Linked DNA regions of Homo sapiens: all the other regions are linked to region 1. Evidence: fine-mapped expression QTL. A gene starts in region 1. Each other region holds a variant in brackets. All regions are shown on one strand. Distances are between the middles of the regions.

What was found. PIP is the estimated chance that this variant, and not a neighbour inherited with it, causes the effect.
Region 2: its variant is the best candidate, but not a certain one, in a credible set for the expression of VCAN in whole blood (INTERVAL, PIP 0.84).
Region 3: its variant is the best candidate, but not a certain one, in a credible set for the expression of VCAN in whole blood (TOPMed, PIP 0.79).

The regions. Positions count from the first base shown.
Region 1 is chr5:83,470,108-83,474,107 of GRCh38, reverse strand. It overlaps VCAN (versican), which reads right to left and starts at 2,364. Exons shown (of 15, transcript NM_004385.5): 1 at 2,085-2,364. RefSeq lists an enhancer at 1,063-1,935.
Region 2 is chr5:83,580,190-83,584,547 of GRCh38, reverse strand. It overlaps VCAN (versican), which reads right to left. Exons shown (of 15, transcript NM_004385.5): 15 at 2,246-4,241. The coding sequence ends at 4,114. Among named protein-coding and RNA genes, the nearest start is that of VCAN-AS1, 20 kb to the right of the region's middle. The variant AG/G (reference allele first, on the strand shown) is at 2,572.
Region 3 is chr5:83,325,667-83,330,024 of GRCh38, reverse strand. All of the region lies in intron 7 of XRCC4 (X-ray repair cross complementing 4), which reads right to left. Among named protein-coding and RNA genes, the nearest start is that of VCAN, 140 kb to the left of the region's middle. The variant A/C (reference allele first, on the strand shown) is at 2,350.

The sequences.
Region 1 (4,000 bases):
GTTGGGTTCAAGTGGTCATGGGTTTTGAGAGCACGGTATGTGTATTATCTTTCTTAAAGACGCCCAGGGTGGCGCGTCTAGACCTCCGAAACCTGGCTCCACCCTGGCCATGTGCGTTCGTCCACTAAGCGGCGAACTGGACCCAGGGCGCCGCGTGCGTTCCAGCCGACTCGCGAGAAGGCATCTCTGCACTTTGCACAGACCAAGACCTTTTTTCAGGGTCCTCCAAACTCCTAGATGTACGCCGCAGATTGTGGAGTGCAAAATGAATGACTTAAGGGAAAACTAGGGCCTTCCATCCTTGAACACAAGGTTGTGAAAGATGCTCGCTTGGTCTGGGGGGCTTGTTTTTCTCCGCCTGTGCGGGACTTCTCCATCAGGGGGCGCCCACACCCGCCGCAAAACTCCCAATTCCTAGACATCTAGGTTCTGCAAGTCTTGTGAGCTGAACTGGGGGCAGATCCGAAGGAGCGCACCGCCTCCCTCGCTCCTCCCTCCCTGCTGCCTTGGAGCACGGGAAAGGCAGGGATTTCACACTAGCCATTCATTTGTCAGCTGTGGGGGAGGGGACGCAGAAGCTAGAGAGAGAGAACAGAGGCTGGGAGAGGGGAAGGGAGGCAGAGAAGATGGAGACAGAGGGAGACACAAAGATGAGGAACGCGACCCAGAGAGACTCTGCCGCGGGTGTGCGCGCGGCAGGACAACTCTCCAGGCGCCGTGTAGATTTCTCCCCCTTCCCGCAGCATCTCCCAGGGACATGCAGGACTTGCCGAGACGCAGTTGGATTGGAGAGCAAATAGTTTAGGCTATGACACTATTTTTCTACCCCGCTCTCCTCTGCCTAACACCCAGACCGCTCCACGCCCAGTGACACAGACCGCGGGCCAGAACAACCCGGATGCCCTAGGTCTGCACGCACCAGGGATGTCGCCCTACAGCGCCCACGCCTCTGCAGGACGGTGGGGCGCTCCAGCCGAGGACGTCCCCCGGGGCTCCCGGCACACGCGCGCGCCGCTGCCGCTAGACCTGCCAGTAAAGTTGCTCAACTAGAGCGGAGAACTAGGAGAGGGTGGGGAATATGTAAGGAAACGGAGGACTCCTGTAGTCTGGGCGAGAGGACTGACCCAGAGGCCCCTGATTCGGGTCCCCGAGCCACCTTTGTCTGCAGTGCGCTCTGGGTGCCGGTTTGCTTGTTGAGATGGGAGCGACAGACCCTATTTCACTCTTCAGGGTGAGAAAAATTGTTGCACATCCCTGCCGATTCAGAACAGGCTTTTCCCGCCCAGGGGCCTCCCAGACCTCCGCGGGGCTCCAACAACCCCACCCCCCATCCTCTGCTCCTTCCCTGCTGGCCCCTTCGCACCGCGTGCAGGACAAAAGAACCCAGGGGCGCCGGGAGAGAACCGTGACAGTCCCCAAGTCGTCAAAGAGACACGGCGGGGATCCTGCACCTCCCCCGGCCGGACCTCCTCCCAGACTGCCTGCGGTCTGAAGGGGTCAGGTCCGCGCAAGGTCCCAGGCTGCTTGGGCGCCGGGTCGCACTGTCAGGAGCTGCCCGGGAGTGGCTTTCCAGGAACACCAGGCACTGACCACACACCAGGGGCTGGGAAACCAGGTGGCCTGCACCAAGGCGGCTTCGGGGACTTGTCTGTGGCAAGTCTTGGTAGTCCCCATTCAAACTTTTGCCTCGAGCGTGTTAAGAACAACAACAACAAAAAAATCAAAGTGCCAAAGGTCCCTCTCTTCTCTCCAGCTCAAGAACCCACCACTTTTCTATGATTTCTTTACAATTTATTCCCTCCCTTCCCCCAATTCCGTTAGTCATTTTACCCCCCACCCCACCCTGGGTTTCTTTTGTCTGAATCTTTTTCAACACCAAGGTCCCTCTGTATGCCTCTCCCCAAAAGCCCTTATGAAAGTTACCTGCATTTTTTAAGTGCCTACATTTTCTTAACTTCGCCTTACAGCTCTTTGCCTTAATTAAAGCCTTCTACCAATTGCTTCTTTTTTCTAAGCTCGCGGGTTTTTTTCTATAAGTTTTTTGTTTTTGTTTTTTAAGGGGGGAACAAAAGAAACGTGATTACCTTGGAAGGCGGCTTATTGCAGTTTGGGGGGAAAATTCACTGCAGCGCTGCGCGACTGGGTTCGGCGTTGCCCAGGCGGGTCACATAGGAAGCGTGGTGGCCCGGGGAAGGATGCGGAGGGTGCGGGACGGTGCTGGAAGATGCGGGAGGATGCGGGGCTGGCCGAAGATCTTGGTCCCAGCTCCTGTCCACAACACCTAATGTTCTCGGCTGTTGCGTCCGCACGCCTGGAGTTCTTCCCCAGAAAGGCTCGGGGCAGCTCGCCTGCAAGTTCAAATGCGGGTTGTGACACCCATCATCATTATATCACTGTACCGTCAGAGCCGAGGAGGAGACTCAGCGAGAAGAAGGAGGAGGGAGAGGAGGAGGGTTCATTCACAGGCTCCAAAAGCGCTCCGCAGCTTCAGCCACTCCTAAGAGTCCAGGCTTGGAAAGCAGGCGGAGGGGCGGAAAGGCAGCTCCCCGCGCCTGCGGTAGGGACCGCCTGCCTCCCTCCCCAGGCACTCCCACCTCTTGGCGTTTCTTCCTGACAAGAAGTACCAATCGGCTTGGGGACAGCAGCGCTCCCCATTCAGGGACTCACTCAGTAACATCGCTCTGCTCGCGGAAACCACTGCCCTCCCACTCCTTCCCCACCCCCATTTCCCCGCCCCCCGTGCAGCTAGTTCTGGGTTAGGGGAAAGGAGCCCCCAGGCTCTTAGGGGGCAGGCCAGCAATAGACAATTGAGTACGATCACTTCTTCTCGGGAGCACACAAAACTGTAAAATCAGCAAAGAACTTGGTTACAGCGTGTTTACGCGCCCACAGAGCTTGCCTGTCCCATCAAAGGGAAGTGTCAGGCTCAAGGCTCCTGCCAACCTGAAAGAGACACTGAGAAAACGAGATCCTTCGGGGACCTAGAGGGAAAGTGTAAGAATTCCCCACTGCACTCCCAGGGAACTGCCCAATGGGGAGCCCGGCTTCAAAAGACCCTGGTAATAAAAGGCTGGACAGGAAATTCCCCCAGGCAAATCCCTTGTCGGATTCAAAGAGAATACTTTTCCTCTGCCACAAATCTCTCCCCACATAAGTCTAGATTCTGCTTTCTTCGTTCTTCCTTTCCTTCAGTCTTTCCAAGTATCTCTGAGTAGAATATTTGATAATTTTCCTGAGTAACAGGGACTTCTTGGAAGTATCAATCACCTTTCATGCTTTCCGGAAATAAGACCATAATCTTTCATGCGTATATGCGATTTTTTTTCTTCAGTCAGGCCCACCCCACTGTGTAAACAGCATCAACACATGGAAGAGTCCCCTGCATTGTGTTACAAAAGATTTCCAATAGGACCTTACAGAGAAAAGGGTCAAACAGTTGACACAAAGGATTTCTGTCCCCTTAGAAAAGAGGGACTTTGGATTTTCCTTTTCTTTGAAGTCAAGTATGAGTTTATACAATAGGAACAAAATAAATCCAAGGTGCACATCAGTATAACACTAGGGATACTAGAATGGATGGCAAACTTTTCCTTCTACACAAATATGAAAGTATCCTCACAACTCTTCTCTCTGAAGCCTCTACTTAGAAAATTATATTAAACATAGGACCTCAAAACAGTAGTGATTAAAGATGAAAGCCAATTTTTCCTCTCAACTTCTTTGATTAGTTTGGTTTAAACTTATGCTTTAAAACTTTTAGTAACTTAGACTCCTGTACATGCGCATTTATAAGATTTCTTTTATATTTTGTAATTTGTAGGCATTCAGCATGGTCATTGATTTTAAGTGATAAACAGGTAGAAGACTTGTCAGGATAATTTCAGTTCTCACCATGTGCATCTTTCATTTCTTTTGTTATTTATCAGCCCTCTGCAGTAATATAACTGTCAGTTACATCATTTGGAAATCAATGTGTTTTTGCAGTGAATTATTTATTCTT
Region 2 (4,358 bases), 110 kb before region 1:
AAATTTTAGAATTAGTCCAACGAAAACAAAAATATAAAATTTTTGACTCTTAATAAAAGACTACTTTTAAAAGAATGATGTAAGAGGTCAAACCACTATGATATTTAGATTCCACTGAATATATCCTGAAAGTGATATTACATGCTTATTTTAGAATGACAATATTTAAAATAGGTCAAAAATTACATCCTCTATAGTTGTATAACTTTATGATGAAAAAAAATTTTGTTGACAACTTAAAATGTGAGAGGTACATAGTTTTTAAAATTTTTAAATAAATACTATCAAAAATAATTTAAGACTTACTGCCTAAGGCAGTAAACTTTTAATCTTCAACAGGGATCATTTGATGGACTCAGACAGAACTCTGAATTAAATTCCAATTAAAACCCAGGCTTTGCTTATTCTGTAAACACCTCAACAAAACCATTCTTGTTCTATTTTGGCATTTGCTCTTTCTTGTCCAGCTGGGATCTAAACATACAGAAATGAGTAATAATGGGAAAAGATTATACAATCTTGAATGACTCACTCAAGGACCTTTATAAATGTTCTGTTTAGACTTGTTTCAGAAAAGAATCATTTGGATGAATTCTGATTTGTTTAGAGAAAATGCAAGTTGCAATACAGTAAAAAGAAAGATGCACCAATATCAGTGCTAACATATCACTGCCAACCTTTTTTTTTTCAGAAACAATTTCACTGCATTTCTAATATTAAGAAACATAAAAGGAAACACTTTACAAATGTTGTATTCATCACTGAGTCTTTAGCCACTTGATAATAACATCTTTTTCCCTTATCTAGAATATATTCTCTCATAGATCCTTTTCATGGGAAATAGTCATGCACAAAATTAACCCGGAACTTTTTTACAACTACTTTATTTTTTTCTGTTTATTTGCAAACTCTGTGAGTTTATTGTACATGATATATGATTTCCGGGCAAATAGCTTGTGGCTAATTCAGTTCCTACTCTTGGTACTTTATTGAAAATTTACTTAAGATCAGCAAAGGTCTACTTACCATCACATTAAAATGATGCACCTCTCCCTATACAATCTCTCTTACCTCTTTAGTAATACAGCTACCCTGGAAGACCACCTCTTCTTAAATAGCCCCCAACGCAGGGGCACATTCTTCCCTCTGATATGCCACTTAACCTTTAAAAATGGACAAAGAACCACTTCTTGCTGCCTTTGACTAGTGTAAGTCTTTTTTAATGTCTCACTCTGTCCCAGTATTCTGTTCATCCCACAGATTCTGTTATTTGTACCTAGATCCACCAATAATCTCAGAAGGCTATATATGCACAATTATTATAAATTCTTATATATTCCCTTGGATCATATTTAAATTCTATGTAAAAGATATGACAGAGTGCACACTAAAAGGACAAGCTCAGAAAGGAAAATAATCTCTTCTCTTCCACACTTATTCATGCCAAACTCCCTGTATATTTTTGACATTTCTAGAAAGAACCTTAAAATAATTTTCAGCTCACCTTTGACCTTTATATCTTTGATATAACTTTGGAGCATAAAATGTATTGGTTCTTCCAGATTATCAATAAAGATACTGAATAGAATGGGTTCTATGATAATTTCCATGGGATGCAGCCAGTATAAAAACTTTATGTGGGCAGAAACCTGTCTACCGCATCCACTGGTGAATCTTCAGAGCCTATTACGGTGCCTGGCACACATTAAATCCTTAAATAATGAATGAATGAAAACTGAAGGAACGGATGGATATCTGAATGGGTGATAACCTCTTAAATGCATAACAATCAGGGATATAATATTTTACATTTTTCTTGGAAATTCTGTGTGGGCTGTAGGGATTACCTGCTTCTGCTACACACTAACTGCATGATTTTGGACAAATAACGAGCCCTCTATGCCCGATCCCTTATCAGTCAGTAATGATGACCCCTGTTTCATAAGCTTGTTATGATATATTACATGTAAAATACTTGCCTTGGTTCATAGGAAGATTTCTGTGATGTGAGCTATCACTTTTCCCATTGCATAGTTTCCATATTTGAAATTAATACATAGTATTCAGATGAAAACATTATCAGAATTATTATCGCAACTTTTACGGGTAAATATATAATCATTTCTTTGCTTGCCACAAAATCATTTCATCCAGGTTAGAAGCTTGCTCTCCATGATGGAACCAGAATGTAAAAATGTTGGTGCACATAAGGATTTAAAGTTGTAAATAACCAGACCAGTCACAGTGTAGTAAAAGAAGGATTTTAGGTTTCTTTGGTGAAACAAAAGCAGATATAAAAAGTTACAAAGATTTTAGATTTTCATTCACAAAAAAAGTCATTCACATTTTACACTATACACGTTATGATATAAATACAGGAAAGTATTATGTGCATTGTAAAGAGAAAGGAAAAATAGAAACCTACTAGATCAACACAGTGTTGTTCTGTGCTCTAAAATACCTAAAGGTGGATTACATTTAATGCAACAACCAAGGGAACCTGCTTAAACATACTGTGTATTATTGTAGCTAGAGTCATTCCTTCTAAGCCAAAGGAGGTTTTATAAAAAA[AG/G]AATCAATATTGGGCCAATCCCTTTGTGCCCTTTTTCTCTTTTTCTATGTGCATTTTATTTTTTGTCTACTCTTCTTCAAGTTGCTCTAAACTGAAATTAGGGAAGGAGTCTTACTTTCCATTACAGGTTTTTCTTTAAACATTAAATTAAGTGGATAAGGATTCAAAGTCATCTTCAGCAGTCACTTTATTCAAATAATGGGGAGAAAACAGAGTGGGAAGAGATGGGGAGAAATGTCAACACATACACTCCACCTAACAGGAAGAAATGCCCACACTATTTCTATATATTCGCTCATTTCTTAGAATGGGCAAACACCTTTTGCTAAAAGCTATATACTTTTCCACTCTTTTCATAATAAACACTTGATGCATTCTATCCGTCACATTATTTAATCAGGGACAAAGTACCTATATTATATGATTCCAAATTGTGTGAGGAAAGTAAAAGGCTAACACTGAAAAATAACTAGCATACTATGTTCATTTTCAGGTCTTAGGGAAAATAACATCCAATAAATTAAATCAGTATGGCTTACTTCATTTATTTATGTATGCTTCACAGCTGCAGCATTCATACATGAACATTCAAAACTTTATAAAAGATTAAAATGGTTATATATACAAAATTTCTTTTTTTTTTTTTTTTTTTTTTTTTGCATGTGTTTTAACAATCCCCCACCCTCCAGAGCCCTAGGTCTATATCCGTATGAAATGCATTGATCGGTAACCTTATGAGTTAGTGTTATGAAAGCCATTAAAAAGTAGACCTGGTTGAGTTAATTATTAGCACTTTGACCCCTAAAAAATGTTCCTGGTTACAGAAAAGTCCTCCATTCAGGCCTTTCTTGTAAGTGAAGAAAAAGGAATGCAGCAAAGAAGAGTTCGACATTGGAGTCCTTAGTTCCATCAGGATCCCATTCGCAGCCTTTAGCATCATGTAGAAGCAAACTGCACCTATGGCTGAGATAGGTGCAATGACCTACAAGATTTTGTGTTTTCTAGCTGTCCAGGAAAAGCCATCTTCAGTCTTGCTGACAGTCAAAGAGCAAGTGAAACCATTTCCAGCCTAAACTACATAAAAGCAGCCGAACCAATGATTAAAGACCTCTAAGGCTCCATAATCATCATTAAATATGCCCAAACTCATTGTGACTTTTTATTTTATATACAGGATTAAAATCAACATTAAATCATCTTATTTACATGGCCATCGGTGCTGAAATTGAGCATTTTAAATAGTACAGTAGGCTGGTATACATTAGGAAATGGACTGCACTGGAGGCAAATAGAAAACTAAAGAAATTAGATAGGCTGGAAATGCTTACTTTCTGCTCTCATTTTCTTTCATTTTGTCTGCTGTCTTTTTGAATGCCAATACTTTCATTTAAAATGTTTTGGGAGCACGGCAACCCAAAATGACTGAACGGTGGTCCAAAAATCCAAACCAACTGATAATTACTTCTCGAGGTGATAGGAAAGGCACAGGAAGTTAGGACTTTGGCTGAAATGATGAAAACACATGTTCGCCATTTTAGGGATCAGCGCCTCGACTCCTGCCACCTCCGGCTCCAACGATGATCATGTTTGGATGTATTTATTGAATTGTCCTTTGCTGATGAGGAATTTTTAAAGTATTTCATAGAATAAGTCCTTTGGTATGCAGATGCTACATGGAAGGAAAGAAAGAAAAAAAGAAAACACACAATATTACTTGCTCCATACCCTAAACTGCCGATACCACAGCCGTAAAATGAAGGTGTCTAGTAGTTGTTATAGCACGGTA
Region 3 (4,358 bases), 140 kb after region 1:
TTTTGTTATCTGGTGACCATAAATGTCCTTCTAAACATTCTCCTACTTAAGCACAATACAACCGTCAAAACAGAAAATTAACATCGATACATTGCTGCCATCTAATTTTCAACCTCCATTCAGTTTCCACTAATGTCCTTTACCTCAAAATGTCCCAAATCACACAATACTTTAGCAGTTACATCACTTTAGGCTTCTTCCTTAGTTCCTCAGTCATTTCTTGAGGTACTTCTGATGATAATTGGCCAGTTAATTTAATGGAATGTACTTAATTTGAGTTTGTTTGAGATTTCCTCATGCTTTGATTAAAGTTGTGCACCTTTGGTAGGACTATTACAGAAGTGCTGCTGTGTTCCTATTGCATTTGATCAAGGTGGTGTATGGTTTCAATTTGTACCATTACTGATGATGTTGATTTTGATCACAAGGTTACCATGCTTTTCTACTGAAAAGTTTCTCTTGTACCCTTTAAAATTAATAAGTGTTTTATGGAGAAGTAATGATGTCGGCCATATTTTTATATGTTTCAAAACTATTTGTGCTTTTCCTTTTGGGATTGTCTGATTAAGTCTCTGGCCCATTTTACTATTGTTTTCTTGGCTTTTATTTAATCGACTTAGAGAATACAAATTCTTTGTCAGCTATATGGGTTACAAATATTTTCTCTCACTGCATGGGTTGTCATTTTCTTTATAATGTTCTTTGATGTACCAACACTTCTTATTTTAATGTGGTCAAATTTATACATTTTTCTTTTGTGGGGTTGCACTCTTTCAGCCTTATTTAAGAATATGTTCTCTTAAGACGTTAAAAATATTCTCCTGTGTTTTCTTCCAAAAGTGTTAAACTATTGCCTTTTATATTCACATTTTAAATTCATTTGAAATTTGTTTTCATGTAGGTGTGAGGAGGGGATCAAATTTCATTATTTTTTAAATAAAAAATCAACTTGCTGGGTGCAGTGGCACATGTCTGCAGTCCCAGCTAATAAGGAGGCTTAAGTGGGAGAATTGCTTGAGGCTAGGAGTTGTTGGAGTCCAGTCTGGGCAACATAATGAGACCCTACCTCTGAAAGAAAAATTTAAAAAATTAAAAATAAAAAACTCAATTGTCATAATATTTTTTATTATATAGTTGATTCCTTCTCTAGTGAATTTTATTGTTACTTTTGCCATATGCCAAATTTGTATATATGCATGAGTATCTTGCTCCATTCTTTCCTTTATCTGTTGTCTATCCCAGTGCTAATATCTTGCTTTACTATTATTCCTATATAATAAGTCATGATTCTGGTAGATAAAGTTTCCCCACTTTATTCTTCTTCAGAATTGCTTTGGTTATTCTTAGCCTTTTGTTCTTCTATGTAAATTTCAGAAACAGCTTGCCAAAATCTTGTTAGAATTTTGATGACAAATAAGTGAAACTACAAATAATGGAGAAAGAATAAAAATCTTTAAGATACTGAATATTCCTGTCCTTTAAATTTTACAATTTGCTCCATCTTTTTATTATTTAATCCTTGTATATTTTGAAAGTATTTTCTAACTCTGATGCTGATGTATAGAAATGCAGTAATTTTTGCATTTTTGTCATGTATCAAGCCACTTTGCTAAATATTCTTATTAATTCAAAGTATTTACCTATAGATTCTTTTGAATTTTCTATGTAGTCAATAATATGCACTATGAATATTGATATGGTTTGGCTGTGTCCCCATCCAAATCTCAACTTGAATTGTATCTCCCTGAATTCCCACGTGTTGTGGGAGGGACCCAGGGAGAGGTAATTGAATCATGGGGGCCAGTCTTTCCCATGCTATTCTCCTGATAGTTAATAAGTCTCACAAGATCTGATGGGTTTATCAGGGGTTTCCGCTTTTGCTTCTTCCTCATTTTCTCTTGCTGCTGCCATGTAAGAAGTGCCTTTTGCCTCCCGCCATGATTCTGAGGCCTCCCAGCCATGTGGACCTGTAAGTCCAATTAAACCTCTTTTTCTTCCCAATCTCAGGCATGTCTTTATCAGCAGCATGAAAACGGACTAATAGAAATATTGAAAAGTTTCTTTCTTTTCAAGACTTATATATTTTATTTCTTTTTGTGCTATGCATGCACTGGCTAGGACCTCCAATACAGTATGGAATGGAAGTAGTGATCATGGGCATCTTGTTGAGAAGAAGTGTTTCTATTTCTTGTGTTTGTGTGTTGTATACATGAGAAGATTCTCATAAATCCTAGCTTGCAAAGACATTTTGTTATGTCTGAGTGCTGAATTTTATTAAACTTCTTTGCACTAATTGAGGTTTTACTCCTTTAATCATCATGGTATATTTAGTCCTTCCTGAAATAAATT[A/C]AACTTTTTCATCATATATTTTTCAGCTTTATTGATAACTGATTGACAAATAATTGTATATATTTATGGTATACAATTTGAAAATTTTATATACATATACAATATGAAATAACCACAACAATCAAGCTAATTAACATAACTGTCACCCCATATAGTTACCTTTTTGTATAAGAATACATAAAATAACAGCTAAATTTAATAATAATGAAATTATTACTAGTGAACCATTTTATAAGGTGAATGAATAGATGAACAAACTGTGGTACATCCCCACATGGACTACTACTCATAAAAAAGCAATGATACATACTGATATATTTCTACATGGAAAAATCTCAAGGCATTATGCTACATGAAAGAAGCCAGACTCAAGATGGCTATATACTGTAGGATTTTATACAGCATTCTGGAAAAGGCAAGACTCTTGAGATAGAAATCAGGTCAGCAGTTGCCAGGGCTGGGTGTGGGGAAAGAGGATTGACTACAAATAATTATAAGGAAACTTAGGATGATGGAAATGTTCCCAGCCTGACTATATAAATTTGTCAAAATTCACAGAACTATACACCTAAGAAGCATGAATTTTACTTTATGTTAATTACACTTCAATAAGCAAAACAAACAAGTTTAAAAATATAGATAGAAATATTTCCCCTGAAGAGCATTTTCTAGCAATTCAATATTCATGATGAGCTTTTATCTCTGATTAACGTGCAGGTGTATGCCATTAGGTGTAAAAAAGCAATTTTTTTAAAAACAGCGTATTGTTCATTGTGAAATATATATTCACGGAACAGCAATAAGAATTCCTTAGCAATCCTCTGGGAATGGGGACAAGCAATTGAGGAAGGCAGTTTGCTAGTGTCAAATTGTCAAGGGATGCTTAATATGCTTCTTTAGATTTTCTACTTCTCTTAACAATCTTTAAGAAATAGATTACAAGCTGCTTTCTGGCACGACTTGGTTGCTATAAGAATACAAGAAATGTAACTGTACATTACAAAAAACTCACATTATGCAATGTCAAAATTACACTTGTAAAAGCAAAACTTCAAGAAATAAACCATATTGTAGTTCAAAGCCTGGAAAATGTCATGTTAGTAGAATATATAGATCCCAAACAAATTTTCCCATAAAGAATATTAAATGCTATATGGCTCAAGCTTGGTTAGAAGGATTTTAAAATTTCTTTTAATCATGGTTAAAAAATTAGGGACATCATGTTACAAACTCTCAATAAACTAGGTATTGAAAAACTCTTAAGTAAACTAGGCACTTAAATGTAAAACCCAAAAACTATAAAAATCCTAGAAGAAAATGTAGGCAATACAATTCAGGACATAGCAACAGACAAAGATTTCATGACAAAGACTCCAAAAGCAATTGCAACAAAAGCAAAAATTGACAAACGGGGTCTACTTAAACTAAAGAGCTTTTGCACAGCAAAAGAAACTATCGTTGGAGTTAGCAGAAAACCTACAGAATGGGTGAAAATTTTTGCTATCTATCCATTTGACAAAGGTCTAATATCCAGAGTCTACAAGGAACTTAAACACATTTACAGGGAAGAAACAAACAAGCCCATTAAAAACTGGGCAAAGGACATGAGCAGATACTTCTCAAAAGAAGACATAAGTGCAGCCAACTAACATATGAGATACCATCTCATGCTAGTCAGAATGGCTATTAAAAAGTCAAAAAACAACAGATGCTGGTGAGGATGCAAAGAAAAAGGAATGCTTTTACACTGTTAGTGGGAGTGTAAATTCGCTCAACCACTGTGGAAAACAGTGTGGTGACTCCTTAAAGACCTAGAACCGGAAATACCATCGGACCCAGCAATCCCATTACTGTATATATATCTAAAGAAATAGAATAATTCTATTATAAAGATACATGCATGCATATGTTCATTGCAGCACTATTCACAATAGCAAAGACATGGAATCAACCTAAATGCTCATCAATGATAGACTGGAAAAAGAAAATATGTACATATACACCATGGA